4 separate regions of the Homo sapiens genome follow, and regions 1, 2 and 4 are each linked to region 3. Evidence: fine-mapped expression QTL. A gene starts in region 3. Each other region holds a variant in brackets. All regions are shown on one strand. Distances are from middle to middle.

Region 1 (8,127 bases), 21 kb after region 3:
GTTGCTAACAATGGCAAAATGTAAATCCGTGTCTATTTATTGATTTTTTTTCACCCTTCGTTGCTCACTTTCCCCATTCACTCACTTTTCCTGCCTGAATCAATCCCAAATAAAGTACCTGAATATAAGATCTGGTTTCCAAAAGTGCTATGGGGCAAACCCAAATGAAGGCATGGGTGAATTAGTGATATAATTCCTCTGAAAAGCTGCCAAACTCTGACCAAAGGGGATCCAAATATGGAGTTTTAATTTTTTGGTAAAAAGTTGAGCCCATAGAAACTTTTATGGATAAACTGAATAACCTAGTCTACTTCAATTTTTCAATATTAAATATAAGCAGAATTGAAGGTTGTTATGAAAACAATGATTATTAAATGTTTTATTTGTGTTGAACTTCTCTGTGAAGTTGTTCATAACACATTTTATACACCATACAATGGAAATTTGACTACCTAAAAACTTTAACATGTAGACAATAGCTTGAAACATACTCTTTGACCATCATATATGTTTAAATGCCTATAATATTAGTTCTAAATATTAAAATTCAAATCTTCATCATTCTTAAAATGGGTATTAAATAATCTAAAAAGCTTAGAACAAAATATTATTTGGTATAAAAAATGCTGTGTTATTTGCTTTATTTTCTTATCATTTCTGATTTATAGATAATATCTTGAATACATTTTATATGTATATATTTCACAAAAGCCAGGTCAAAAGAACATGAAAAGAATAGAATAAATGGTAATAGATAACTGATAGAGCACATTTAAATTACTTACGTGTGTAAAGTGCTGCTTTAATATGTAAAATCTATTGCACATCTTTTTAAAAAATTATGATTGATTTTGATGTCAATATTATAATTTCTATTTTGACTTCATTGGAAAGATGGGATTTGATTTCTTGTGCCCATCACTGTAATATAGAGATATCCCCAAACTGGAATTTCAACTTATCTTCACCCAGGTTCTTATGATTTAATTAGACTATTGATTTTTTTTTTTTTTTGGCTGTGAGTTTTGCTCATTATACATTATTCTCTGCTCGGTTAGATAATATTGTCAATGGTTTGTTCAGTCCTCAGTTTTTCCAATTATTTTTATGCACTTTGGGTTTAATCAATTAATTTTCCAAGCTGTAAATTATGCATTTTGAGATCATAATTTGTTTTTAATGTATGTCTTAACACCATGATTTGTTTCATGTTTGTAATTAATTTTGGGCTTTGAAAATAAAATTGCATGACAAATCATTATGGTAATGCCACTGCCGTAGACAGCAAAGCTGAAATTTCTCAGATAAGCAAATTTTCTTTTCATTTTGATTTGTTAAAAAAGTTTAAACAGTTAAAAATGAGTGATATTGAGTCATGGCATTCCAGGAAAATACCAAGCACATTTTCACATTAAAGCGGGACTACCAATATCTAAGTCATTGTAATACATGCTGTATCATTACCTATTACTGCATAACAAACCACTCTAAAACTTAGATCCTTAAAATAATAACAATGTATTACTTTTCACAAGTCTGTGGATCAGATGGACTTTTGTGTTGATCTGATCCAGGCCTGATTGATCTTGACTGGACCTGCCCATGCATTTATGTTTAGTTAGCAGGTCATCTAGGTGACTCTGTTTCTGGGAGTTGGCTGGTTGTTGGGTGGAGTGATAGTGCTACTGGACCACATTTCTCTTCACAACCAACAGGGTAGGCAGGGTTTGATTATATATGGTAGTTGTAGGGCTCCAAGGGCAAGAGTGGAATCACGGAAAACTCCTTGAAACCTAGGCTCAGAACTGGCAAATCCTTTTGACCACATTCTATTTGCCAAATCAAGTTACAAGATTCAATTCAAGAAATGGAGAAATAGAATTCTCTCGATGGGAGAAGTAGCAGAGACTCAAATTCAGGGAGAAGAGAATTGTGGCAATTTAAAAAATCTACTCTTTTCAAATAAATCTGATCTTTCAACTAATCTTTCAGTTTTCAAGCTTTTCACCATGATGAATATTATTTTCCTATCCTCCTCTCTCTATCTCATTCATAAAGTATATTTCCGAAAATATATATTTGGTGCATGCAGATGTATTATTATTACTCAATATTCCACAGGTCCTTATACTATTCAGCTGCTTATTTTTTCCTTGTAAAAATTATGGTGGTCAGAACAGTATAGAAAAAGAAAGTTTAAATAATTAAACTTTGTGTCCTGTTTGGTATTATAAATATATGTTACTATCTACTGTGGAAACCAAATCTGTTATAACATATAAATATATACTACTATCTACTGTGGAAATCAAAATCAAATTTGTCCCAGGTTGTCATATAAACCTGAAAGTCTAGTTTTAAATTTGTTCACTCTCTATTTAGGTTTCATTGATTCAAATCCTGACTCTCTCTGTTGGGCAAGTAGCTTATCTTTTTTGTGCCTGAATTTCCTCATCTGTAAATTAGAAATAATAATCGTACCTGCCTTATACTTTTGTTTTGAGGATTAAATGAGGTTAAATATGTAAAACACTTAAAACAGTCCCTAACATATAGAATTACTCAATACATAACAGATAATGTTTTGATTAACAACCAAATGTCCATAACTGGCTTTCAGTTGACCAGCTTTTATACTTTTTTTTTTTGGTCTCTGTTAGATCATGTAACTAATTTGGGGAGAAAATGTTTGGAATTCAGTAAACAGTACTGATTGGGAAAATTAAACTTGAAATGTTCAATTTATATTTCAAAATGGAAATAAAAAATTAAATAAAATTTGGTGCAACAGATATTTGACTATCTCTTGCTACGTTAGTCCTTCTGATAGATGCTGTGAGTATAAGGAAGAGTAAGACATGGTTCTAACAATAAAGTGCAAAGATTCCCTATAATCATCTTATCCCAGGCTACCATGTTGATGACAGTATTTTTTTAAGTGGCTCCTGGGCATATATCATGGTCAAATACAAACAACATTATTATTAATTATTTTTCTTCAATGGTTGCCAGTAGAGGAGAAAAATAACATTGTAAAATCTGGAATAAGTTGTGGTATGGGGGTTGGAGGTGAGCTATGTGTTAAACAAATTGCAAAAACCTTTTGAGTCCTCTGAGGAGTACCCTTTCAGATCTATGGAATACATCACAGTGAAGAGGAGGGATTTAGGGAGAGAAGAAAAACAGTTAAACAGTGGCAATTTTAAATGAATTGTCACCATTTAAAAAATCTGCTCTTTTCAAATAAGTCTGATCTCTCAACCAATCTTTCAGTTTTCAAACTTTCCACCATGATGAATATTATTTTCTCATCCTCTTCTCTCTGATTCATAAAGTGTATTTCTGAAAATAGGTATTTTGTACATGCAGATGTATGTATCATTATTGCTCAATATTTCAAAGGTCCCAATACTATTTAGCCACTTATTTTTCCCTTGTAAAAATTATGGTGCTCAGAACAGCATAGCACAAGAAGGACACAGTGAAAGAGAAAGGGAGTGAGAATAAGCACATACATTTGAGCTGTTGGGGAAGGGAGTAGAAGGAGTAATCATTGATAATGATGGTAAATTTCATCGTCTAGGATATGAATGAGAAAAATATGGTGTGCTGGCTTTTATATGTGTGTATGGAATATAGAAAAAGCCATAGAATATTTCCAAGAAAATCTAGGAGAGCAAAATTAAGGACTAATTAAAATGTGTTTTTCTAGACCAAGGAATAATTATTAAGAGCATTTTTTGAGATTTCTTCAACCTGTAAAACATTGACCCTCCCAGGTATTCATTTAATAATTGTTACTAACCATAACAACAATATGTATGTTATTAATGTAGTTAATTTATGAGACAATAAATTAAATTTCTATAGCAGCCCCTAGGTAACAAACCACATGCACATTATGTCATTTTGATACCAAGCCCAGGCTGTTTCCCAGTGGAGACTAGATTGAAAAGTCCTCAAAGAAAAAGCATCCATTTTCTTTCATATGGAGAAGTGGCCCTTTCCATCAAATCCAAGGACAAAATAAGCCCAAGAGGTAGAAACATAACACAAATATATATTATGTTTGATAATATTTAACCATTTCCCAAATATGTGAAGTCACTACATATATATATACATATATATATATATATATTTTTTTTTTTTTTTTGACAGAGTCTTGCTGTGTCACCAGGCTGGAGTGCAGTGGCACAATCTCGGCTCTCTGCAATCTCCGCCTCATGGGTTCAAGGGATTCCCCTGCCTTAGCCTCCCGAGTAGCTGGGACTACAGGCGTGCATCACCACGCCCGGCCAACTTTTCTGTATTTTAGTAGAGACAGGGTTTCACCATGTTGGCCAGGGTGATCTAGCTTTCCCGACCTCATGATCCGCCTGCTTGGCCTCCCAAAGTGCTGGGATTACAGGCGTGAACCACTGTGCATGGCCGATGTCACTATTTTTTAACAAACCCAATCACAGGCAGACAAAATATGAAATATTATACCCATTTCATTATGTGAAGAAATTGCAATGCATTTTTATTTCTATTTGTACTTTGTACTTACCCTATACTTTAAAAATAAAATCTAAGAAATAAAAATTGCATGAGAAAATAAACAATAATAAAATTTTTATTTAGTCATTTGCAAAATAATTGACTTTTTAGAGCTTTATTTAAATATCTTTGTTATTTTTAATGTAAAATTTTGATAGGTTATGTATTTGACTATTGGTAGCAGATTTGGGAACATTAGAAGGTGGTTTTTAATGAGATCGATATTATTATGTTAATACTCCCTAAGATTCCATTAGGA[G/A]AAGATTTAAAAATAGATAAGAAATACAAGGACGGGAGGAGAAGAATGGAGAGAAAAAGAGAGAGAGAGGGAGAGGATAGACATCTAATTCTAGCTCTTAGATGTACAATATATAGTTTTATTTTGATAAAATGCCATCTTTAGTACTCAATTTTTCCTTCAACAACAACCAAAGATAGTGTTCACTTTGCTATAATTCTCTCCACTTGCCTTATCTCTGTTATCTTTTTTCTACCACACATTTATGTTAGGCAGCTCAGACTAACTACAAAATAGAAATACATTTCTTAGCAGCTGTTACCATAATTCTAAAAATATACTTTTCTTTCTTACAGGATTTCAAACCTTCTGGGTTTCTTCCCAGCGCTAAATCCTGTCGACTGGATTCACTAGGATGAATAGAGAAAGAAGTGTTACATTTTAAGATAATTTCTTTTCTAAACACACAGAAAGGTAATAATTCTGGCATTTTACAAAGCATGTCAATTAGCTTTCTCAATGCTTTTTTTTTCAATTGTTTGCTCACCAGTTTTGTTTTAGTCTTTTGCTTTCTTGCATATTTAGTTTTTAATTATTGGGAGTCATGAACTCATTGGAAAGAGTACACTCAGAATTAGGGAGTTGGGTACATCTTTGCATGGGGCAAATATGAAAAACATGAACAGCAATGACACTTATGATTAGTGTGCTCTACAGTGAACTTCCTATCATGCTCCCAGGAAGGAGGCTTAGCCTCTCCTGGAGTTCAGTGTTATACTACCAAGTCTAGCACATTGCTTTGCTTTTCCAAAATAGCAAATGTCTTAGCACTTACCTAATGATGATCTAAGGAAAAGTACTAGGGAAATGGCATTATTCTGAAGACTTTGTTGACAGCTGCAAACCATAGGCTATGATAGCATTAGGGAAATGGCATTATTCTGAAGACTCTGTTGACAGCTGCAAACCATAGGCTATGACAGCATTGCGGGAAAGCAAGAGAAGACACACCTCTTCCCCCTTCTAACAGAAACCCCTCCCCCAACACACACACACACACACACACACACACACACACACACACACACACACACACACACACACACTCTGGCTATACCCATGGTATGTACCCTTATTTGAGTTCTGTTCATACTGGACATAAATAATTAGATTTTAGATAGTTGGCAGTTACACTCCTCTTCTCTAAAAAGATTTCTTTTTTCTTCTGCACTCCTCACCAGTTAATCTGAGCTCTTTTGTTCTGCTAAAGGAAGATAAGGAAAAAATATTTCTTAGTTCTATTTAATCACTGGCATGCCAGTATTGGAGCTACTGCTCCGTGGAGACTGCCAAAACCTCGACCTAGTTACTGCTCCTTTTTGTGGCATCTTACCATGCGGTTTGTGGCACTTTGGAACACAAATTCACAGTTACCAGAAGTTAGGTTTATCACTGTTGCAAAGCCACTGAGTTCTGATCCAGAATCTCACAAACTGGTACATGCCCACGCAGATCTAGCCTGTCCAGAAGATGAACAGGAGGAAAAACGCAATGCCAAGAAGGAAGCAACCGGGTCCTAATTAATCAGAAACAAATAAGTCATTTTAATAGTGATGTTGAAGGAGATAGAAATGTATTCTTATGAGAACCCTATGTTCCACCAGGATGACACTGTGAAATTATTCTACTGCCAGTTATTGTCACTAAGTTCTGGAATACTGGAAAACAAATGAGTCATTTGGAGTGTGTTCCTATTTTTTGTTTTTATATTTTAATGCACTTCAAGATGTAACACAGCTTCATGGTCTCCTTTTTTAAAAAAATTTTCCTTACACTTAATTCCAAAATGATCCTTGATTAGCAGATGGATAGATATGGAAACAACCACTTTATCTGTGGAAATCAGTTATAAAAAGTGATAAAATACACTCAACATCCCCAAAATTCAGAGTTTAAGATGAGGAAATCCTTACCATTGCCAAAAGGAAAAAAAGAAAAAAGAAAAAAGATTTGAGTGTTGCTAGGACCATTTCATTCAGTAAATGTTTATCAGGCATTTGCACTTTTCTACTTTTATTGCTCATTTGATTTCTGCTGCTTGAAATATTCTCCACTCACTGTCTTTCCCTGAAGACAAACCCAAATGTCACCTATGTTTGAAGCTTTCTTTAATTGCCTTTTTACCCTGAACCCATGAGCCCTTCATTCTCCCTTTACCAAAATTCTCTACCATTTATTATGTACAGGATTGTTTAACACATGTCTTAAAAACACATCCTGTGCTATCAGTTCGAAATCTCCACCTTTGAGAGTTAGGCTTGTCTTATTCATATTTGCATTGTTTGCAGTGCATTGAATCTAGTGGTGGCTCAAGAAAATATTATGTTCAATTTAAAAATAGGTGTTCTATTTCTAGTTTTGCAGCATCTTACTGAACACCAGCACACACTGAAAATAGATCACATATTTCCCTGGCAAACAATTTACGATTTGAATTTTCAATGAGTCCAGCGTTGATGGACTTGTGACAGGACATGTGATTATTTGGTGGATTCAGAATGAACCTATTAATAGCTTTTCAGATAATTCATCTAACGTGGCTGTAGGAGCTTCACAAAGTAATAAAGAAGTCGAGATTTCAGTTAAGAGAGTATCAGACAATATGACTCCTGATGGACTGGGCATACCAACTTCTAGGAAGCTTTAGCAGAGATTTCATTGCAAATGGTAGAGAGAGTTAGCCTCTCTCCTCTTTCCCTTCGCACTATGTCCTAGGATTGGTTGGTTTTTAAAATTCTTTGTCAGAGAACTCCTAACACTGAAACAAAATAGGTAACAATGTTAGAAAATTGCATGAGGGAAATCTAGAAATGCTGACCTTTCATTTGAGAGTAAAGCACCTGAATCAGCTTTCAGATTGTCGAAAAGAAAACACAGCTATTTCCAAAACAACTAAAAAAGTAAATTAAAAAAACTATATTTGGAGAAGAAAATAATAGAAATAATCTGGAATTAGAGAATTAAAAAGTATAGTATAAAAGAGCTTAAACTGAGCAAGTTTTATTTTTTCAAGATAAATGAATGATGGATCTTCTTTGGGATTTGATTGGTAGACATTTTTTGTGCGTTTCTGAAAATGGAGCTGTTCCATAAGACATGAATTGGTCTTCAATCTAATAACAATTTCTAACACTGAACAGAATCTAGGAATCACTTCTGTTTTGAAGTTTCTATAATATGTAAGAATTATGACAACAGTAATGCCAGGCTTACAAATAAATAGTTGTTAAATAATAAGATAAATATATTAAAATAAAAAGCATTTCAAAATAAGCTCTGTACTCTCT
Region 2 (8,127 bases), 50 kb before region 3:
TTAATTAAATAATAAAAATTGTTTACATTTATGGTGTCAACATGATGTTTCAATATATGTATACATTGTGGAATGGCTAAATAAAACTGATTACCATATGCTTTACCTCACATGCTTATCATTCTTTTGTGGTAAGAACACTTAAAATCTACTCTGCTAGCACTTTTCAAATACACAATATATTGTTATTAACTATAGTCATTACGGTATTTCTTATATGGATATTATAATAAATTTATTACCTCTGTCTAACTGAAATTTTGTATCCTTTGACCAACAGTTCTCTAATTCTTTCAATCTTTTACCTCCTATCTCTAATAACCTCAATTTTACTCTCCACTTCTATGAGTTCAACTTTTTTAGATTCCTTTTACAAGTGAGGTTATGTGGCATTTGTCTTTTTGTTCCTGGCTTATTTCACTTGGTATAATGTCTTCCAGGTTCATCCATGTTGTTGCAAATGACAAGATTTCTTTCTTTTTAAAGGCTAAGAAGTATCCCACTGTGTATATATACCACATTTCTTTATCCATTAGTTAATCAATGGACACATGTTGATTTCATATCTTTGCTTTTGGGAATAATGCTACAATAAACGTAAGAGTGCAGCTGTATCTCCAACAAGCTGATTTAATGTCCTTTGTATATCTATCCAGCAGTAGGATTTCTGGATCATACGATAGTTAATTTCAGTTTTTTGAGGAACGTCCATACTGTTTTTCATAACAGCTGTACTATTTTACATTTCCATCACCAGTGGCTAGGGTCCTCTTTTCTCCACAGTCTCACTAACACTTGTTACCTTTTTGTCTTTTTTTCCAGTAGTCATTCTAACAAATGTGAAGTAATATCTTATTTTGGTTTTAGTTTGCATTTCTCTGGTGATTATTGTTGAACATTTTTCCATGTACCATTTGGCAATTTTTATGTCTTCTTTTGAGAAATGCCTATTTACCTCTTGCCCATTTTAAAATCTGCTTGTTTTCTTGCTATTGAATTGTTTGAGTTCTTAATACATTTTGGATATTAACTTATCAGAGGTATGGTTTACACATATTTTTCTCCCATTTCATAGGTTATCTCTTCACTCTGCTTGTTGTTTTGCTAAGCAGAAGCTTTTTAGTTTGATGCAATCTCATTTGTCTATTTTTATTTTTGTTGCCTGTGTTTTTGGGATTATATCCAAGAAATCATTGCCCAGACCAATATCAAGAAGCCCTTTCCTTTATAGTATGAGATAAGGGCCCAATTTCATTCTTTTGCATGTGAATATCCAGTTTCACTGACACCATTTATTGAGACTGTCTTTTCCCTCTTGTGTGTTCTTGGCATCTTTGTCAAAGGTGAGTCAGTTGCCTGTAAATGCATTACTTTGCTTCTGAGCTACCTGTTCTGTTTCATTGGTCTACATGTCTGCTTTCATGCCAGTAAAATTTTGTTTTGATTACTATAGCTTTGTAGCAAACCTTAGAATCAGGAAGTGTGAAGAGTTCAGCTTCGCTCTTTTGCTCAAGGTTGTTCTGGTTATTGGGTATCTTTTGTGGTTCCATGTGAATTTTAGGATTATGTTTTTCTATTTTTGTGAAAATGTTATTGGAATTTTGGTGGTAATTGTATAGAATGTGTAAGCTTGCTTGGGTGGTATGGACATTTTAACATTTTAAAATAGGCATTTAATTTTAATAGTGATATTTCCAATCTATGAACATGGAATATTTTTAAATTTATTTGTGTTTTCTTCCATTTCTCTCATTAATGTTTTATAGTTTTTAGTGTACAGATTTTTTTCAACCTCCTTGGTTAAATGTGTTCCTAATTTTTATATTTTACTTATATGTAGCTATTGTAAATGGGATTGTTTTCCAGATTTTTTCAGATAATTTGTTATTAGTGTATAGAAATGCTACTGATTTTTGTATGTTGATTCTGTATAGTGATACTTTCCTAAGTTACCTCATTAGTTATAAGTCTTTTATTTTTAATTATTTTATTTTATTTATTTTCTTATTTTTACTTTTTTTTATTTGTATAGAAATGGTTTTCTGTTCCTGTGCTAGTTCACTTAGGATAATGGCCCCCAGCTCTGCCCATATTGCTGCAAAGGACATAATCTCATTCTTTTTTATGGCTGCATAGTATTCCACGATGAATATGTACCACATTTCCTTTAACCAGTCTACCACTGATGGACATTTAGGTTGATTCCATGTCTTTGCTATTGTAAGTAGTTAATAGTAGTTTCTTATGATTCTTTGTATTTATGTGGTATCAATTGTAATGTCTCTTCCTTCATTAATGATTTTATTTATTTAAGTGTTCGCTCTTTTTTTTCTTAGTTGGTCTATCTAAAGTTTTCTCAATTTTGTTTATTTTTTCAAAAACGTACACTTGGTTTCTTTGATGTTTTGTGTTGCTTTTCTAGCCTCTATTTTATTTATTTCTGCTCTGAAAGTTAGTATTTTCTTCCTTTTGCTAAATTTGGGCTTAGTTTGTTCTTTTTCTCATTATCCGAGGTGTAAAGTTAGGTTGTTTGAGATTTTTCTTCTTTCTTAATGTAGGAATGTAGGTATTTATCACTGTATCTTCCCCCTTAGAGTTGCTTTTGTTACAGTTCATAATTTTGGTATATTGTGTTTTCATTTTTCTTTTTATAAATATGCTTTTTGATTTCTCTTTTGATTTCTTCTTTGACCCATTGATTGTGTGGATATAGGTTGTTTAATTTTCCCTTATTTTTGAATTTTCCAATTTTCTTCATGTTATTGATTTCTAGTTTGTTACCAATGTGGTCTAAAAATATGCCTGATGTGATTTCAATCTCCTGGAGAATATGCCACTTTCATTTGAAAAGATTGTGTGTTTTTGCTGCTGTTATATGAAATGTTCTATATAAGTCTGTTGGGTACATTTGGCGTATAGTGTTGTTCAAGTCCACTATTTCTTTACTGATTTTATGTCTGGATGATCTATCCATTATTGCAAGTGGGACATTGGAGTTCCCTACTATTAGTATAATATAGCTGCCTATTTCTTCCTTCAGTTCTGTTAATATTTGCTTTATATATTTAGTTGCTTTAATTTTGGGTGTTACACATTTTTCATACCAATAGTCATAGCCATTAACCAAATATGGTCATTGTGTCCTTAAAATGGGGTTAATGTGGTTAAGAAACTGAATTTTTAGTTTTATTTCATTTTAGTTATTTTAAATTTAAATAGTCATTGCTAGTGGCTATCTATTGGACAGCACAACTCTGTATAGTTAACAACAGATTTACTCAGCCTCTGTTTTCTATATACATTGTAGTTACAGGCTAGTTGCATACAAAAGTAACCTGTACATTTCTTCTGACCTCAACTACTGGTGGCCTCATGGCTTCATGCACCTTCTAGGTTGTGGCATGTGCCGCAAAACAGTTGGATAGAACCCTAAGTGAACATCTGGTTTAGCCTCGACAAATGCTTTCCTCACTACCACCCAATACCAGAAAGAGTTAATTGTTCCTGGCTGTTGGTCTTCCAATTTAAGCTATTTGATCTTTGCATGCTCGGTATGTCTCCCTTAAAAGAGAGTTGCTTGCTATATTGCATGTTGAAAATATTGAAAGGTGAGAGATGGTTATTCTTGATCACTCTTTAGATTTAACCACAATGTTGCTGCAAATGCATCTCGCAAACTACTAGGTGAAATCATGGAAAATTCTGGAAGAAAAGGAGAGAGGTGTAAGTCATTCTGCCTTATTTTATGCATCTAATAATGACAGTAATTATTTTGTAAACACAAAATTTAGAGGAAAAAATGCTAACCTGGATGGATGCCTAGTTAATAGATATAATCTGGGACTGTCTCAGGAAAATTGAGACATATGGTCACCTAATGGATAAGCCATTATCTTGCTTCAAACAAAATTTCAACCATAGAGAAGAATAAATAAAAGCATAAGGAATTTATAATTGGAATCAAAACTCTAAAAAATTCAAAAAGCATAAAAGAGGTGAGATTCACTTAATATTGTGTTTTGGGGAGAAATGTACTATTAAATTATCATCTGTTCTCTCAAAACCAAGTGAAGAATTAAATGCATGTGAAATTCACAGTAGAAAATAGTTTATTTCTTGTAAAACGACAGTTTCTGCTAAAAGTACAGCCAAGTCTATTTAATATGTGATTAAAGGCAAATTTTTTTTGAAGTT[T/C]TTGCACATTGGGGTGAAAGAGAAAGGACTGGAAGTATTTCTATCATGAATTAATGGTTTACTCCTGAAAAGCATTCAATTTCTAAATTAAATATTTTGAAAAATAAGAAACTGTTGTAAGCATAAGTTTTTAATAAGATCAGTGTATCCTCTGTTTATTTGATAGTAAGTAAGGAAACAAGCAACTAATCCTGTAATAAACTAATAGCAGTTACATAAAAATATCAATTAAATTGATATTTGGGGGAATCTACTAATTTTTATTACACATCTCAGTCCAACTTACAGAGTTATAAAATCCACTGTTAGCCAATATATCTGTGTAAATTTGTCTGCCTAGAGTGAAGGATCTGGCTTATAATGGTACCACCAAATCCACAGAAAACTTAACGAAATTAAAGACAAAATTAAGAACAAAAGTGAATGAATATTATATGTACTTGATGATATGGTTTGGCTGTGCCCCCATCCAAATTTCATCCTGAATTGTAGTTCCCATAATCCCCACGTGTCATGGGAGAGACCCGGTGGAGATAATAGAATCATGGGGGCGGTGCCCCCATCCTTTTCTTGTGATAGTGAGTTCTCATGAGATCCGATGATTTTATAAGGGGTAAGCTTACCACTTTGCTGGGCACTCATTTCTCTCTCCCGCCCTGTGAAGAGGTACTTTTTGCCATGATTGTAATTTTCCGGAGGCCTCCCCAGTCATGCAAAACTGTGAGTCAATTAAACCTCTCTTCTTTATAAATTGCCCAGTCTCAAGTGTTTCTTCATAGCAGCATGAGAACAGACTAATACACTTGGTCATTTACATATTTTGGATTTAGTAGTGTTGAAGGTTTCTAAGGAAGCGAAAGAAGTTAGGAATGCTGTCACTATTGTGTAAGTGATTAGTCATATATTTCTGAATAAACTGGCCATTTTATGAAGTATGTAAATAGAGCAAAGCCAATAAATGCAGAAACCTTCACTCATCCAAAATATGTTGTACCTATTATGCACTTACTGGTGGAGAGGGAGGGAGTCCCAGAGATTATCAAAAACATGAACAATTACGTTGAAAACTCCTCATTCAAGTGGCCAAGGAATCAAGTGTTCTGTGGATATTAATATCCAAATTTAAATTTATCTTAGTTTAAAAATTATATTTGAAGTAAATAATATGCTTTTCTTTTATGTTCAAAAGTTTCTTGTTTGACATCTGAAAGAATGACAAATTCAGAACTATTTTTCCTTATGTAAAGAAAAAAATCTAAAATAAACATAGACTAAGGAGTAATTTAGAATCTATTTTATTAGTATACAAATTTATATTTTAAATTTGTTGAACTAATTTAAAGTATAGAAAATAATTTTAAAGAATAATGCATTTTGGAACTATCATTTAATTGGAGGGAAAAAGCTGCAAATGACTTTTGGGTAAGTGTATGCAAGAATTTTATAGACTTAATATGACTATGGTCCCCAAAACTTACTTTTATCATACCTCTGTCTATCTTAAATGCATCAAAGCCATTTAATCATCTTGGTACTTTGTTAATGCTACAAGGTTTTCAAAGTCATATTCCTTTTATTATTAAATTACTACATATTGCTGAGATTTGGCCAATGGTTCACTTCACAAGGGTCCTAGCCCTGCCTCATTGTACATTATTATATTTATTAAATACGTATTATGAAGTATGGCACCAAAATTAAGGTTTCTTTTACTCTTAGGCTCTAAAATATTAATATCTGTTCTTTTAGTTTGAGACTTGAAACTGATTATATATTTAATTTCAAAACCTACTCTTTCAAAAAAAGATTTATATTTTTCATTTTTACCCATTGATTGTGAAAAGAAATAGGATTACCCCACATCATTGAAAAAATAACTACAAGTCTATCTTTCCTGAAAAAAGTATAAATTATTTTGATATATAATTAATGCTTTTTACATTTCTAACTAAAGTTAGCATCTCTCATTTCTGTTGTTTCATAGGTAGATAGATTGATGTATTAGGGTTCTTAGAGAGAGACAGAACTAATAGAATATATATATATATATATGAAGGGGAGCTTATTAAGTATTAACTCACACAATCACAAGGTCCCACAATAGGCCATCTGCAATCTGAGGAGAAAGGAGAACCAGTCTAAGCCCCAAAACTGGAGAACTTGGAGTCCGATGTTTGAGGGTAGGAAGCATCCAGCACGGGAGAAATATGTAGTCTGGGAGGCTAGCCCAGTCTAGTCTTTTCACATTTTTCTCCCTGCTTTATATTCTAGCCACACTGGCAGCTGATTAGATGGTGCCCACCCAGGTTATGGGGGCAGGGGCCTTCCTTTCCCAGCCCATTGACTCAAATGTTAATCTCCTCTGGCAACACCCTCACAGACACACCCAGGAGCAATACTTTGCATCCTTCAATCTAATTAAGTTGACACTCAGTATTAACCATCACAATTGATAATAGATGGTAGATGAATAGAGAGACAGATGACATATAGGCAAACAGAGAGACAAACATAGATTTGTGTCTTGTTTTTCTTATATCTTTACCAACCTCCCATTCCCCTTTACCCAAATTATCATACATCTCATGGTATGGACGGTGGTCACTCTTAAAACATTGCATGAAATGATAAACTGACTATTTTATAGAGAAAGTTGTCTTGCAATCTCCTGGATTAACATATTTTTACTACGAGATTCCCCGAAATGTTTTATATCCCAGTACCTACTAGAGTGCTTGTTGATAGTAAGACATATAATATTTGTGAAACAAAAAAAAGTGCTACTTAAATGCAAGATTCTTATTGGACATTGCCCTTGTAAGACTGCTGTCACTGCTCTCATTCTTAACATGTTCTTTTTTTTTTGGACAGGGTCTAGCTCTGTTGCCCATGCTGGAGTACACTGGTACAGTCATAGCTCACTGCAGCTTTGACTTCCTGGAGACTCAAGGGATCCTCCCACTTCAACCTCCTGTGTAGTGGGACTAAATGCGTGTACCAGCACACCCATCTAATTTTTTAAAAAATGTTTTTGTAGAGATAAGATCTTGCTTATGTTGCCCAGGCTGGTCTCGAACTTCTGGCCTCAAGGAATCCTGGCACTTGGCCTCCCAAAGTGCTGGGATTACAGACATGAGCCACTGTGCCCAGCTTAACTTAGTATAGCTTTTATAAGTTTATTCTCCGACATTTCACTTTCAGTTTTCTGGATAAACTTATTTTGTCATCAAGTAGCAATTTTGGTAACATTAGTTTGGACAATAGAGGGAAATTTCATGCATATCTTGTCTTATCCAAATGTTCAGATACCTGTTTTTGAAACTTCAGGTAATTCTATTAAGGTAGAGTCTAGGTAGGTATCCATATTATATTCTTGTTTAAAGGAGGGTTATTCTCTATATACTGAATGATAAGATTCTTTGATTTAAAAAAAAAATCAAAAGATATATTTGATAGCCCTAGGACCTAAATGGGTTGCCAGGTTCATAACTTAGAAGAATTTGCTCTTTATAACTTAGCTCAAGAAATCATGCTTTCATTGCATGCTTTCAAAACATCCTGTCAAAAGACCTCACTGAAATTAATGGCTCAGAACCGATGCTAAGCTTTCAAGGATGCTGCAGTGATTTATTGAGTGGTGCCAGTCTCCGGCTTCACTGGGTGGAGAGCACTTGTCTTCATGTAACAGGGCTAATATTACTTCAAGCTGTTGTCAGTTGACTCGGTAAAATTGCTTAGATACACTCCCCACACAGTTAGCTGGTGATGATTACCCTTAAGTATTCACAGAGCAGAAGCCCTGGGGAAACACTAATTAGCCACCCGCAAGGAAGATGTTCCAGCCACATAAACAATCTCCTGAAGTCTCTGGGCTGTAATGAGGACTAAGCCCCAGTGACAAAACCTGCCCTGTGCTGTGCTGCTGCATCAAGT
Region 3 (8,127 bases):
TGCTGTGCAGAAGCTTTTTAGTTTAATTAACTCCCATCTATTTATCTTTTTTTTGTCCTGATCATTAGTAATGTTGAGAATTTTTTCATATGTTTGCTGGCCATTTGTATATCTTCTTTTGAGAATTGTGTATTCATGTCCTTGGCCCACTTTGTGATGATATTACATGTTTTTTTCTCGCTGATTTGTTTGACTTCCTTGTAGATTCTAGATATTAGTCCTTTGTCAGATGCATAGTTTGTGAAGATTTTCTCCCATTCTGTGGGTTGTCTGTTTACTCTGCTGGTTCTTTCTTTTGCTGTGTAGAAGCTTTTTAGTTTAATTAAGCCCTATCTATTTATCTTTGTTTTTGTTGCATTTGCTTTTGGGTTCTTGGTCATGAAATGTTTGCCTAAGTCAATGTCTGGAAGAGTTTTTCCAATGTTATCTTCTAGAATTGTTATGCTTTCAGGTCTTAGATTTAAGTAGTTGATCCATCTTGCGTTGATTTCTTTGTAAGGTGAGAGATGAGAATCCAGTTTAATTTTTCTACATGTGGCTTGCCAATTATCCCAGCATCATTTGTTAAATAGGGTGTCCTTTCCCTACTTTATGTTTTTGTTTGCTTTGTTGAAGATCAGTTTGCTGTAACTATTTGACTGTATTTCTGAGATTTCTATTCTATTCCATTGGTCTATGTGCCTATTTTTATACCAGTACCATACTGTTTTGGTGGCTATAACCTTGTAATATTATTTGAAGTCAAGTCATATGATACCTCCAGATTTGTTCTTTTTGCTTAGTCTTGCTTTGGTCGTGCAGACTCTCTTTTGGTTTCATATAAATTTTAGATATGTTTTTTCTAGTTCTGTGAAGAATGATGATGATATTTCAATGGAAATTACATTGAATTTGTAGTTTGCTTTTGGCAGTATGGTCATTTTCACAATATTGATTTTACATATCCATGTGCATGGGATGTGTTTCCATTTGTGTCATCTATGATATCTTTCAGCAGTGTTTTGTAGTTTTCCTTGTAGAAGTCTTTCACCACCTTGGTTAGGTATATCCCTAAGTATTTTATTTATTTTGCAGCTATTGTAAAATGGGTTGAGTTCTTGATTTGATTCTGAGCTTGGTCGCTGTTGGTGTATAGCAGTGCTACCAATTTGTGTACATTGATTTTGTATCCTGAAACTTTACTTAATTTGTTTATCAGGTCTAGGAGCTTTTTGGATGAGTCTTTAGGGTTTTCTAGGTATATGATCATATCATCAGCAAAAAGTGACAGATTGACTTCCTCTTTGCTGATTTGGATGCCTTTATTTCTTTCTCTTTTCTGATTGCTCTGGCTAGGACTTCCCATCCTCTGTAGAATAGAAGTGGTGAGAGTGGGCATCCTTGTCTTCCTCCAGTTCTCAGGGGAAATACTTTCAACTTTTCCCCAATCAGTATAACATGGCTATACGTTTGTCATAGATGACTTTTATTACCTTAAGGTATGTCCCTTCTATGTCAGTTTTGCTGTGGGTTTTAATCATAAAGGAATGCTGGATTTTGTCAAATGCTTTTTATTTTTCTGTTGAGATGATCTTACGATTTTTGTTTTTAATTGTGTTTATGTGATGTATCACATTTATTGACTTGCAGATGTTAAACCATCCCTGCATCCCTGGTATGAAACCCACTTGATCATGGTGGATTATCTTTTTGATATGCTGTTGGATTTGGTTAGCTTGTATTTTGTTGAGAATTTTTGCATCTATGTTTGTCAGGAATATCGGTCTGTAGTTTTTTGGTTGTTGTTGTTATGTTCTTTTCTGGTTTTGGTATTAGCGTGATACTGGCTTCATAGAATGATTCAGGGAGGCTTTCCTCTTTCTCTGGCTTTTGGAATAGTTTCAATAGGATTTGTACCAATTCTTCTTTAAATGTCTGATGGAAATCAGCTGTGATTCCATCTGTTCCTGGACTTTTTTTTTTGTTGTTGGCAATGTTTTTTTGTAACCATTTTAATCTTGCTGCTTGTTGTTTGTCTGTTCAGAGTATTTCTTCCTGGTTTAATCTTGGAGGTTTGCATATTTCCAGGAATTTATCCATCTCCTCTAGGTTTTCTAGTTTGTGTGTGTAAAGGTATTCATAGAAGACTTGAATGATCTTTTGTATTTCTGTGTTATTGGATTTAATATATCCCGTTATGTTTCTGGTTGAGCTTATTTGGATCTCCTCCCATTTTTTCTTGGTTATTCTTGCTAATGGTCTATCAATTTTGTTTATATTTTCAAAGAATCAGCTTTTTGTTTTATTTATCTTTTGTATTTTTTTGTTTCAATTTCATTTAGTTCTGCTCTGATCTTTGTTATTTCTTTTTTTTTTTTTTTTTTCTGCTGGGTTTGGGTTTGGTTTGATCTTATTTCTCTGGTTCCTTGAAGTGTGACCTTAGACTATCTATATGTGTTCTTTCAGACTTTTTGATGTAGGCATTTAATGCTATGAACCTTCCTTTTAACATCGCTTTTGCTGTATCACAGAAGTTTTCATAGGTTGTGTTATTGCTATCATTCAGTTCAAGTAATTTTGAAATTTCCATTATAATTTCATTGTTTACCAAAATATAATTCAGGAGCAGATTATTTTATTTCAATGTATTTGCATGGTTTGAGGATTCCTTTTGGAGTTGATTTTTAATTTTATTCCACTGTGGTCTGAGAGCATATTAATATAATTTTGATTTTCTTAAATTTATTGAGGCTTGTTTTGTGCCTATCATATGATCTACCTTGGAGAATGTTCCATGTGCTGATGAATAGAACATATATTCTGCAGTTGTTTGGTAGAATGTTCTGAATATATCTGCTAAGTCCATTTGTTCTAGGGCATAGTTTAAGTCCATTGTCTGACTTGTTTTTGATGACCTGTCTAGTGCTGTCAGTGGAGTATTGAAGTCACCCACTATTATTGTGTTGCCTCTTATCTCATTTCTTAATTCTAGGAGTAATTGTTTTGTAAATTTAAAGCTCCAGTTTTAGGTGCATATGTATTGAGGATTGTAATATTTTCCTGTTGGACTAGTCCTTTTATTATTCTATAATGTCCCTCTTTGTCTTTTTAAATTGTTGTTGCTTTAAAGTTGGTTTTGTCTGATAAACGAATAGCTACTTCTGCTTGTTTTTGGTGTCCATTTGCATGGAATATCTTTTTCCATCCATTTACCTTACATTTATATGGGTCTGTATGTGTTAGGTGAGTCTCTTGAAGACGCAGATACTTGACTGGTGAATTCTTATCCATTCTGTCATTTTGTATCTTTTAAGTGGAGCATTTAGGCCTTTTACATTCGATGTTATTATTGAGATGTGAGGTACTGTTCTATTCATCCTGCTAGTTGTTGCCTGACTACCTTGTTTTTTTTTTTGTTTGTTTGTTTTTGTTTGTTTTTTATTGCTGGTGAGCTTGTGTGATCATTTGGGGTGTCAATGAATCTTGCTTTGTCATATCATCAGAATTGTTTTTCTGGTTCCTTCTCATTTGGGTAGACTATTTCAGAGGAAAGATCTGGGACTCAAGGGCTGCTAATCTGATTTTTTTTTCCTATGGGGTGATCCCTTGATGTGGTGTTCTTTTTCTTCCCCTAGAAATGGAGCTTCCTGAGAATAAAACTGCAGTGATTGTTATTGTTCTTCTGTGTCTAGTCCCCCAGTGGAGCTACTGGGCTCTGGGCTGGTATTGGGGAGTGTCTGCAAAGATTTCTGTGATGTGATCCTGTGAAGACCTGTCTTCAGGTCTCTCAGCTGTGGATGCCAGTACCTGCCCCAGTGGAGGTAGCAGGGAAGCAAAGTGGACTCTGTGAGAGTGCTGGTTGTAGTTTGTTTAGTGTGCAGATTTTCTCGAATGCTGGTTTGCTAGCAGTGAAGCTGTCATGTGGACAGACTCAGGACCTCTGGTTAGCCAGGGTGTTACAGGTGGTGTTTTCTCCTTTCTTGGAGTAGGATTGTTCTAAGTTGCTGTAATGGCTTGAGTTGGTTGACTTCCAGCCAGGAGGTGGCACTTTTAAGAGAGCATCAGCTGCGGTAGTAGAAGGGGGATACAGGCTTGCCCTAAGTTGGCCAGGGTAAATATTCAGTCGTCTCAGGTAATAGGTGAGGCCATAGAGCTCCCACAAGTTTATATCTTTTGTCTCTGGTTACCAGGAAGGGTAGAGAAAACCATCAGGTGGGGGCAGGGTTAGGCAGGTCTCAGCCTAGACTCTCCTTGGGCTTGCAGTGGCCACTTTGAGGGATATGGGGTGTGTCTCAGGCCAATGGAGTTATGTTCCATGGGAGATTATGGCTGCCTCTGCTGCTTCCTACAGGTTGCCAGGTAAGTGGTGGAAAGCCATCAGTGACAGGCCTTACCCAGCTCCCATGAAACCAGCAAGGCCAGTCTCATTCCTGCCATACTCCCCCAGCAGCCAACAGTGCCCAATTTATACCCAGGCCTCTGGTGCACAGGGCTGAGATCCTGCCCCAGGCTACAAGACTCCCTGCTGAGAGAGCAAGCATGGCTTTCAGTCCTCACCCTTCCCTTCCTGTTGCGGCTTCTGTGCTCCTATCTGTACTTCCCGTTCCCCACACCCCAACCCCCTGGACTCTGCCCAGGAAAATTTGTCGTCTTTGGAAATTATTACAAAGTTCAGCTGGAAGTCTCCTTCTCCCTGTGGACCTTCCCCAATTCCACTGGCTGCCCTCCTCAAGGACCCCTGTGAGATAAATTCAGAAATGGCTATCCTTGGCTTCCCTGGGGAACAAGAGTGCCTGCAGTTCTTTTCCCACTTCTTTTACTTTTCTATTTCACTGGGCTCTCTAAATTCATTTCAGCTCTAGGTAAGGTTAAACTCTTCTCCCGTCTTCTGGATTTTCAGGTTCTCCAGGGCCGATGTATGTTTGGAGATGGATTTCCCCCTCTCACACTTCAGGCACTCAGTTTTTTGGCAGTCTCATGGAGTTTTCAGTGGCAAGCCGCTTATTTCAAATGGTCTGTGAATTCTTTTGGTTTTTCTGATATGTTCCTGGTGTGATTCTTCACCAATTTTATCTCGAATTATATTTTATTCTACATTATGATTGCTATTATTTCCTTATTTTTCTTTGTATTTATGATATATTTCTGCCATTTAAAAAATTTCTTACTACTTCTCTGACATTTGACTTTTGGTCTTTTTCTATTAAGTAAAGATTTTAAAATAATGTTTTAATTTGAGAAACTTTAGTTTTTAATTGAACTACTAAAACGTTTTACACTAATTATATTATTCTTTCTGATCTTGTCAGAGATTCTCTATTTTGCTCACCTATTTCTTTTCTAGCTGATGTTTATTATATTGACTATATTATTATTATTTTTTCTTTTAGGGATTTGGAAAGGATTCCGTGATGGTTAATATTGAGTGTCAACTTGATTGGATTGAAGGATGCAAAGTATTGTTCCTGGGTGTGTCTGTGAGGGTGTCACCAAAGGAGATGAACATTTGAATCAGTGAGCTGGGAGACACAAACCCATACTCAATCTTGGGGGACACCATCTAATCAGCTGCCAGTGCAACTAGGATAAAATCAGGCAGAGAAATTTGGAAAGACTAGACTGGCTGAGTCTTCTGGCCTTCATCTTTCTCCCATGCTAGATGCTTCCTGACCTCGAATATCAGACTCCAAGTTCTTTAGCTTTTGGACTCTTGGACCTTTGGCCACAGACGGAAGGCTGCACTTTTGAAGTTTTGGGACTTGGACTGGCTTCCTTGCTCCTCAGCTTACAGATGGCCTATTGTGGGACTTCACCTTGTGATTGTGTAAGTCAATACTCCTTAATAAACTCTGCTTTATATATATATCTATCCTATTAGTCCTGTCCCTCTAGAGAACCCTGACTAATACAGATACACAGAAAGTTCAATTTTCTAAATTTTAAGCATTTTAAAACTTACTTGGGTCTATTTTTCTCTCATCATCTATGAACAGAGTAAAACAGTAACTATTATCATTCACATCCCTCCAGCTCAGATGCTACATTTGGCATAATTTTCACATTACTATTTTTCCTTCACACTGTTTTGCTGATATAATCTCAGATTTCAGATCCAGGTTATTATTAATTATTAGCTTAATATTTTGTATTTTTATCTTGTAAGTACTACATTTGAAATTTTAAAGCTAATCACTCTATAGAGCTAAGAATTCTATTTGCTGAGTTATTTATATTTATTTCTTAGTTGACTTAAGTGACTAGTCAAATAGTTTTTTTCACAAAGAATTTTATATGACATTGCCTCTCAGTCTAGTGTATCTAAAAACAACTTTCTGTCGCTCTAGCATATAAATATGAGCTTTTCTAACTAAAATGCCTTGGATCTCAATCTTTTCTGCCCAAAGCTCTGTAAACCTTTGTTTTTCTTAGCATTTAATATTGCAAATAAAGTCTGATCTACAGACATTCTGTTTTTTTGTTCCTTTATGGTTCATGGGATTATTTCATACGACAGAAATGTATTCTGAGGGGTACTGGAATATATCACTTCAAAATAAGCCTCTTTGGAATACAATTTTTTTTTATTTTTATTTTTTTTTGTTAAAGGCCACTGAGAAAACTTCTGCCTATTTGTCTCTAATTAATCTGTCTTTGGCTAGTCTAATTCACAGGGCCTCTGCTGGAGAACCTAAGATGAGTAGAGGAAATGATTTGTTGTTTTCCTCTCCTGAAATACCTAACTGTGGGTGTTTATATTAGCAATGATTTTTATCTTCACATTTTTTTCCTGATCTTAGATTGTTTCTTCCATAACATTACACTCCTCATATTAATCTTTTTCAAGGGAATGATAGAGAAATTTATCACAACAGCTGTTTATTTTATTCACTAGCTCAGGCAAAAAGAGCTCGTCCAGGCTCTCTGATTGTCTTGACCATCACCAGACAGATAAGGTGCCCTAAGTTTTGGAGTGGAAGGGTCACTGTAAGCTACCCGCCTACTTTCCATAAGTGCTGATGTTCCACAGGTAGGACAAAAGTGAGTTGGTCCTTTAGGCTTCCATCAAATCTTCGACATGGGCACAGATGCTCCTTGACTTACAATGGGGTAACATCTGGATGAATCCATCATAGGTCAAAAGTATCATTAGTCTAAACGCATTTAATACACCGATAAACCCATCTTAAAGTCAAAAAACCATAAGTCAAACCATCGTAAGTTGGGACCAGTCTATGTAGGATCTAGCAGATTATTTTAACTTTCTATATGTGGATGATATTCTTCACAGTTTCCAGAGCTGATGCAAACTTCCTGTTGTTTTGATATTTGGTCAGCCATTTCCAGCTACAAATATGGGAACTCGGGAGGATCTGTGCTCTAATCTTCAGTCTACCATACTCCCAGCACTTTAGGGGTCTTAAGTCTGATAAAGTTTTGAAAAGGAAAGAGAAAAGCTGCATTCTGTGCTCCTGAGACAGGGAAGCCCAGCGGAAATAAAATATCCAGGATGTGGAGCGGGCGAGATTGTGCACCATTAGTATGTAAAGCCTTGATTCAGATGGATGGTTAGGAGTACAGTGCCAATGAGAGAGAAAGAGAGAGAGAGAGAGAGAGAGAGAGAGAGAGAGAGACACCTCTGTTTGGACCGGGCATCTTTGCTGTTTGAAAGAAACCTTTCATCCAGACAGTTTGAGTCTGATCTTACCTCATTCTACTGGTGAGCTGTACTATGTCTTGCACAGTGCTGCCTCCCTTTTTTTCTGTGGCTCTTTGACACCCCCACCTCCCTGCCAGCCTGGTGTGGCTGATCAAGCTGTTCAAACAACTGGAAGACATCAGAAGTTAAACACTCATTATTTTAATTTGATGCTAATCATGTGTTAATGAGACTAATCCTTGCAATGATTCAGGTAATTTGCTTAATGGCTGCCCAGAGTACAGATTATAGCAATCAGTCACGTCTGATAAGATGTCTGTTGTGGAGGAGGCTGTCAGGTGAATGAAGTGGGAAAAGGCTCAGGAGTAAGGGTCTGATGTCAGGCATGTTCTGTGTTGGAGGGTAGGAGTTAAGGGAAGGAGACAGCTCAGAAATCCAAATTTTCAATGAGAAATGAACATCCTAGTGTTCTTGTTTAGAAGGAAGAAGTT
Region 4 (8,127 bases), 79 kb after region 3:
TCTTTCTTTCACTAATTTGAATTGCCTGCAAACAAAAAGTTTTCAAATAAAGGTCCTGTTAGGACTATTTTAATTTCCAGATAGCATTCAATACTTTGCGAAGAATTAATTTGTTAACAAGTTAAAAAGGTAGGTTTTTCCAACTCTGCCCTCTTAACTTAGATAACTCCTTTTCATATGTCGGGCAAGGGTTGCAGGGCAAAATTGTCAGTCCAACCCAGGTCAAATGATTACACATCTCAAATTAATTGCAGCTGAGCTAATGAGGCTGTATTGGCTTTGTAGTGGACTAGACAGGAATTCAAAAGAGTTGACAATAGAGAAAAATTGGAGTACATTTAGAAAATTCTTAAAAGAATTTAGATCAGTGCCTCTTAAACTTTACTGCATATATGAATCATCTGGGAATTTGTTAGTAATATAGATTCTGTGTTCTCAGTATGCCTGGGTTTAATTTTATTATTATGAACTGTTCATAAACTCCTAGGTCAGGCTGATGCTTTTGGTCCATGGACCACACTACCAGTAGGAAAAGTAGAATATTTCCTGATCTTTAGAATTAAGAGAAATAAGAAATCTTAGAAAAATCCCAATATGTCAATGCCATATATCTTTATAGTAATCAGCCTTTATCTACTTAAAATGAGAGAGAAGAAAATTTAAGTCTTCAAGGGTAAATCACAACATTAAAAAAAAAGTCTGCTCCTGGATACTTATGTTTACAAATAAGCTAAGTAATTTGCTCATGTAGGATGACCAACTACCTCAGTTTGCCAGGAGGATTGTCCTCATATTAACACTGAAAGTCTCATGACACAGAAATCCCTCAGTCCTAGACAAATGGCCACACTTCATAAGGCACGTGTTGCATTAAGAGAGTTCTCATGGTCTGTTCAAAGTATCATCTTATTATCTATGACAACATTATTTTAAAAAATTAAAATGCTGTATTTGGAATCAACTTGTTTTGTAATTTGGAAGAGGAAAGGAGGGATATTCATATCTTTTATGACAATGTGACCTAAAACTTACTTGCTGAGACAAGCAGTTAACCATGTGACTTTTGTTACTCTTTCATTCTTAAAAACTTGAGCTAAAGAGAAAATATTGATTTAACATAGAAAGTGAACTTTATTTTTGACTTTATATCTACTTCTTTTTGTTTTACCTTGTCTACCTCTCAATTTTTCCATGTTGTTTTCTGATATATTATTTTAATTATTCAAAATATTAATGGAACAGAATATCTTCTTTTAAGTTATGAATGCAATCAATTTTGAGTCTTTAATTTTTTTTCCATAAAATATTTTAATTTAGCCTAATATAATGGCACATCAACCAGTAATAGGTACATTAAATTGAATCATGATGCTCATATACACATTTTATGACACAATCAAATATCTTAATGCATTAATTCATATCTATCAGTTAATAAAATCAAGTAGGAAACATTTCGCTATTGCTGCTAACTGTACTTATCCCATTTACTGGATGAGAAGTCTAAAAAATCTCAACAACTTGATTCTCAGGACTTTTTTCCTTAGATGTCTGGGACTTGGCTATTACTCTAGCTTTTACTAAGTTTATTGGCTGTGGATAAACTAAGAAGCTGCCCCAAATTCTACTTTATGCTTCAGGTTTTCATGAAGTGAAACCATTCTTGTCAAATTAGTAACACACGGAGTCATGCACATATTGTGCCAAATCTGATGGAAAAGTGGTAATGGCTCCCCAAAGGTACCTTAGATCTTGTCTATCATTGACACATCATTAGGAAGTTATTACTTCTGGTGCATTAAATGTTAACCCAGAGTCTTAGAAAAGTTAAAAAGTGAATGGACAAAAGCAAATTATTAGATAAATTAATTACTTTTTTTTGTTCACTATTTTTAGGCTGGAACTGTAGTGGATATTATTTGAGATAAGTTAATATACAATATATATTATCTTATTTTAAAGAGTCAAATACTATTTAGTAAAGCGTGATTAATATACCTGAAACAACTAGAAAGCAATTAAATACTCATCTACAAAGAACTATCTATAAGCTTAATAGGATTTTATGTTCAATATGTTGCTCTTTTTTCTATTTTTCTTCTTCAACTTTTCTTTTCTTTAGACCTAGTATGTGTTTCATGCTAAGCAGAGTATAGTGCATTCTGCTTTACTCAGATAACTAGTTCAAAGTAGCTTAAGGAGAGAAGGTGATTCATTGAAAGGACACTGGAGTGTGTAACAATACTGAAAGAAGAGTTGACTAAATAAACTTCAGGAAGAGCAAGGGTTCCACTGGGCCTCAAGTATAAGATGATAAAGCGGACAGGCCATGACTGTAATCCCAGCATTTTGGGAGGCCAAGTTGGGAGTATTGCTTGAAGTTCTAGAAGAGCTTGGGCAACATAGCAAGACCCCTATCTCTACAAAAAAAAAAAAAAATAGCGGGGCATAGTAGTGTGCACGTGTAGTCCTACCTACTCAGGAAGCTGAGGTGGGAGGATTGCTTGAGTCCAGGAGCTCGAGGTTACAGTGAACTATAATCATGCTACTGCACCCTAGCCTGGATGACAGAACAAGACCCTGTCCCTAAAAGAATAAAAATAAAATGATAGGGAACTGAATTTCATCAGGACTTTCTCTCTCCTACTCTCCATGCCAGCTCTCCTCTGTCCTACTGCAGACCATCTTCCTCCATATGATAGGTAACATTGCTGCTGACAGTTCTTCATTTTACATTTCACGGGTACCACACCAGATGCTACTTTCTTTCCCTATTTGAATGCAAAACATTGCAAAAAGGAATTCAAACTAGCCTGACAGGGCAGGTAGCTCCCATACCCACATTGATAATATAGGATCAAGTTGCCTGAGTAATATACAAGTATAACAATACCCAGCAGAAATGATGGTGTGGAAGGAGGATGGCTCTCATAGAAAGGGAACACTATTCCTGGAAAAACAAAAAGGAGCTGAGCGGTTGTAACCTAGAAGTCCACCATGTACACAATTCTCATGTAATCCTTTCAAAACTTTTAAAAGCAAATATTTTTATTAAAGATTATTATTTTCACTTTTTCTTTTTTCTTTTTTGAGACATCGTTTCGCTCTTGTTGCCCAGAATGGAGTGCAATGGCACGATCTCGGCTCACCACAACCTCTGCCTTCTGGGTTCAAGCCATTCTCCTGCCTCAGCCTCCCGAATAGTTGGGATTACAGGCATGCACCACCACACCCAGCTAATTCTGTATTTTTAGCAGAGACGGGGTTTCACCATGTTGGTCAGGCTGGTCTCGAACTCCCGACCTCAGATGATCCGCCTGCCTCTGCCTCCCAAAGTGCTGGATTACAGGCGTGAGCCACCGCGCCCGGCTATTTTCATTTTATACATTTGAAAATTTCTTTCTTCCACACATGATACTCTGCTGACTTTCTGTACATAAGGTACAATATGACTGGTAATTTCACCGGTTTAGCTTTGTCTTTGACTCTATTAGAGCTACAAATCCTTCCACAAATGGCTAAATACTGAGGACATCTTGAATAGAATTTGTAGACCCCTACCTCACTTGAACTCTAAAACCTGCCTGTGTCTTTCATTTGGTCCTCCTACTTTGAAATTTGACCTCGACCTCTGCCCCAAATCATTGTCT[T/C]AGTTTGGGTCCCTTACATGTAGATGTGCAGGCTGTCAACTGCCCAACTGGTAGAATGCCATTCTCCAAATGAATGGAGGCCCCTGGGGTTGTAAAATGTGGAGGATCCTTCTCAGACTTGTGCACCTTCTAACAATTTCTGCTGTACTAGGCCTTTCCAGCCTATTCCATTTTTCAGTCTCCTCTCTTCCATTGTCCAGACTAACTACTTCCAAAGGTGAGATATTTTTCTTGTCCTCCTCAGAAAGATGGGTATTTTATATAATAAGATGAATTAATTGGATATGAAGACATACAGGATTTCTTGCCTAATACACAGTGGACTCTGAAAGCCAAGATGGTATCCTCTAATATCACCTTCCCGATTATTTAACTGCTCCATCTAATTGTGGCCACCTGGTTAAACTGACATCTTTTTCTTGCCTTTGCTCAACCATGGCTCAGCTGTGTAGACTACGTGTTTGCTATCACTTAGGGCTTGCCATAAATTCTATCCTCAAGCTCCAGCTAAGGAACTAGTGAATTATCATGTGTGTGGAAGGGACTAGCACATATACATTAATGACAACAATGACATTTAGAAATGGGTCATTTTCCTCTTTCTCAGTAAAGATAGTCTTTGTGGATTTAAATCATTAATGCTGTTTTTTTCCCCTCACCATTATGTTACCATAAAAATATTGAAGTGTAACAAATGATTTGCTTATCTATTACTACTAACGAAATGGTTGGAAAGAGCTTAGAAACAGTTTTCTGCTTTTATTTAGCTGAAAAAAAAACAGTTTCTATAGCTTCCTTTTTATGCAAATGAAGATGCCTACTCTTTTTGCAGACGTTATTATGGAAGGATATCATTGATCATGTCCTCAGGGTAATAAATAATTACTCTACTAACGTATTGCTCTGAAAGAAACTGACATGAAGTAGTTTCAAATTAACCACTGCTAATTGCATGCATTGTTTCATACTTATTACTGCAATCTGATTAACATGCTACTGAATAGAACTGGCAGGAAAGGTTCTTTCTGCTGTATTTCAACTTGTTTTAGCTAAAAACTTGGCTAAATGTGAAATTTACAAAGTTAGAAGGTTAAATCTATTGCTGAGGAAAACAGGATCATTGTGGTATAATGAGCTTGACCACTGCCAGAATTTTTATTTTACGAATTTATGTTTGAGAAATTGACATATTTTTTAGATTTCCAATAGGAAAAAATGTCCTTTATTATATGCACAATCTGTTATAGATTAAAACACTAAATCTCTGATATGAAGTTTCTTCAGTAAACTCTTCAACATAAGAAAAACAGTGCCACTTTTCAATGTAAAATGAAATCTGTAAGAATAAAAACATCTCAATTTTGGCCTTGTTACTAAATTTGCCATAAAAAATCTAAATTACTATAAAATGGAACTTTAAAAATGGTGTATATTTGCTATTATAATTGTTATTCCTACTTATCTTCCCAAGATAAATGGGATGATATAGAAAGACAAGTGAAATTGTTATGCTTATAAATGTAGAGTTAATCAGTTACACTAGTGAGCATTTTTATCATAGCTATCCTGTGCCTCTGTCCTAAGTTCAAGGGCAAATTATATACTGAAAATGATATTTTGATAAAAGTTGCAAATCTACATTTTATGTACCTTTATTATGCACTTACGCATCAGTCTCCATGCAGTAAATGCACATGTTGTTCTATGCGGTTTACAGTTACTAAGTCATTTAATTTTAAATGACCCGATGGTACTATTAATATCCCTATTTTAATAGATGAGAAAACTGAGGCACAGAGAGGTTAAGTAATTTTCTCAAGGTTTCGGAGCTAATATTTAATACATGGTGGAGCTAGAACTCAAACCCATGGTGTCTGGCTCTAAAAACCATGCACTTAGGACCGGGCGTGGTGGCTCATGCCTGTAATCCCAGCACTTTGGGAGGCTGAGGCGGGCAGATACCTGAGGTTGGGAGTTTGAGACCAGCCTGACCAACATGGAGAAACCCTGTCTCTACTAAAAATACAAAGTTAGCTGGGCGTGTTGGCGCATGCCTGTAATCCCAGCTACTCGGGAGGCTGAGGCAGGAGAATCACTTGAATCCGGGAGGTGGAGGTTGCGGTGAGCTGAGATCATACCATTGCACTCCAGCCTGGGCAACAAAAGCGAAACTCCCTCTCAAAAAAGAAAACAAAACAAAAACAAAAAACATGCTCATTACTGATATACTATGCTGTCTCAGCATATGGACCTGGAAGATGCATTATATTGGTAGATAAGGTAAAATGTATGTTTTTGGAGGGTGGCATTGAAACTGATTCTTATGTTGTTATAACTTTGAAATGTTGGCCTGAGCTCTGATTTATAGCTGATACTGTTCCCCAGCTGCACACAGCTGATCTGTCTATGGCCTTCTGGTCCTTCCTTGGATCCCTATGTCCATCCTCCATTCTATGGCCCAGGGTTTACTCAGCACCCTGAACCCTAGAAGTTCACTTATAATTACTGGTTGGCTGTAGCCTCCTCATACTGGCCTGGGCTATACACATGTCTTTCCAGCTCTGAGTTTAATGACCTCACATTGGTGGCTTGGAATCAGCCAGGGCAAAAGTCTTTACAGCATGGAAACCAGCAAATGCCTTCTCCCCATCCCTCGCCCCATCACTTTGGCAATCTGGTTACTCACACAACACTGCCTAGGATCTACTACCATTCATATCCCAGGATAGGCATACCCCGAACATGGAGGTTTTCATGTGTTTTTACTGTATGTCCCCATATGGCATTATAATGTTAACATTCATGGGTCTAAGCCCTTCCTGGACACCAAAGAAGAACAAAAAAATGGCAGAATCTCAGCAATACAGCAGCAGTGGCAAAATATGATATGTGCTTTCCCTTACAATTCTGCATTTATTGCAAACATTACTAATCACTCATGACATGACAGAGCCTGGCCCCAGACCCAGAATCCTCATCAACATAGCACTCTAAAGTCTCGACAGCCACTGCCAACCACTCAGATTTGGTACATGAGATGAAATTATTTACTGTCCCTCTTAGAATCAGAAATTCTCATTTCTCCCTAGGATATTCCCACTCTGTATTATTTATAACACTTCCCTAAGTTATAGAAAGATTTCTAAAAATGATGACCATGAAAGAAAACTTGTTGTCCCCAAAATTTAAATATTTAGAGCATAAGATCCATCCGCTATTCTGCCTGATAAAATCAGTTATGCAATACTCTACAAAGTACTTCGGCATTTGTAATTTTCCTAAGGACTCCATGCTCATGTATTGATATTCATCCATAATTAAATATATATGTTTGATGTCAATATTCCTTTGTTAGTCAGTGGAAATATATGAGTTCTCTGTTCATTGAAACCAGCTCAATGGAAATATTCTTTGACTTGGTGATTAAAAGAAAGGAAATTTGTCTTGCTACTGATGTCAAAATTGTATCATTAAAACATTTTCTGAATATAGAACAGAGTAAGAAAAAGTTTAAAATGTTACTTATTATTTTTTCATCTTCCTCTTTTCTACCTCAAGCTCAAATTTTTAGAAACAATTCCCTTAATTTGTTCTAGTTTCAAAAAGAGAATTGCAGGGATATATGGAGATACATTTATAGAGTTTGAGTAGTTTAGAGGTATGTTTAAAGGGGAGCATTAATCTATCAATACAGTGAAAAAGCATCTATAAGTGATGAGATTGTATGGTCTATATCTGATATAAATAAGCTCACTTAATATCTACATATATAGTGAAGACTACTCATAATCTCAAGAGATTACTATCCAGACATGTGAAAATTGTATATCCACTTGCAAAATTCCCAAATAACATGAAGAATGCATAAATGCAAATTGAGAGGTTTACAACAATAGCTGTCAGAGGAAAACCTGAGCTAATTGGTGAAAGGTGTTAGAGGCAAGGTTCTGAAGCATGAATGAGAATTGGATGAATGAGAAATAAAATAGAGGGAATGTGAGAAGGTCTGCATGAGCAAAGGCTCCAAAGAAGGATGGTGTAAATCTTATTTAATGGAAAAGCACATCAGAATAGGGGCATTTGCAATGAGGGTAGTGGTCATAAAGAGTAGGTGACTTTGAATATCAAAATAAAGAATTGATTTTTATTTAGAATTGTGTATCGTTTCAGTCTATGAGGCCATTATATTTTTATCTCATGTTTTATAGGCAGAAGTATCCTAATCTTTATATGAACCCTTGCAGAGCAAGGGTAAGCTTCTTATCTAATGTTACAGGAGCCGTGAAACAAGCACAGGATTAAGACTTAGAAAGCGTGGATTTGAATTCTGGGGCTGTCGCTTACTAATGGATGATTTTTGCATGTTGCTTAACCTCTCTGAATCTTAGTTTCTTTATGAACATCATAGTACATAGCTGTTGAGATTGGAGAGCCGAGATAGTTAGGATTAATCATGCTTCTTTCTTCCACTCCAGTT

Alleles and levels. Positions count from the first base shown, and alleles are read on the strand shown. Sizes are in standard deviations (SD) of each study's normalised expression. Not every link is listed here.
For the expression in visceral fat of the gene that starts at base 4,811 in region 3, T is the high allele of the variant in region 4 and C is the other (small effect, 0.25 SD a copy in GTEx).

What was found. PIP is the estimated chance that this variant, and not a neighbour inherited with it, causes the effect.
Region 1: its variant is the best candidate, but not a certain one, in a credible set for the expression of LINC00989 in whole blood (INTERVAL, PIP 0.74).
Region 2: its variant is the best candidate, but not a certain one, in a credible set for the expression of LINC00989 in whole blood (INTERVAL, PIP 0.52).
Region 4: its variant is the best candidate, but not a certain one, in a credible set for the expression of LINC00989 in visceral fat (GTEx, PIP 0.66).

What each region holds. Positions count from the first base shown.
Region 1 is chr4:79,508,649-79,516,775 of GRCh38, forward strand. It overlaps LINC00989 (long intergenic non-protein coding RNA 989), which reads left to right. Exons shown (of 4, transcript NR_038826.1): 3 at 5,137-5,254. Among named protein-coding and RNA genes, the nearest start is that of LINC00989, 20 kb to the left of the region's middle. The variant G/A (reference allele first, on the strand shown) is at 4,802.
Region 2 is chr4:79,437,586-79,445,712 of GRCh38, forward strand. No RefSeq gene overlaps it. Among named protein-coding and RNA genes, the nearest start is that of GK2, 33 kb to the left of the region's middle. The variant T/C (reference allele first, on the strand shown) is at 4,195.
Region 3 is chr4:79,487,783-79,495,909 of GRCh38, forward strand. It overlaps LINC00989 (long intergenic non-protein coding RNA 989), which reads left to right and starts at 4,811. Exons shown (of 4, transcript NR_038826.1): 1 at 4,811-4,992; 2 at 5,370-5,803.
Region 4 is chr4:79,567,016-79,575,142 of GRCh38, forward strand. It overlaps LINC00989 (long intergenic non-protein coding RNA 989), which reads left to right. Exons shown (of 4, transcript NR_038826.1): 4 at 8,126-8,127. All of the region lies in intron 1 of LOC107986294 (a long non-coding RNA gene), which reads left to right. Among named protein-coding and RNA genes, the nearest start is that of LINC00989, 78 kb to the left of the region's middle. The variant T/C (reference allele first, on the strand shown) is at 3,651.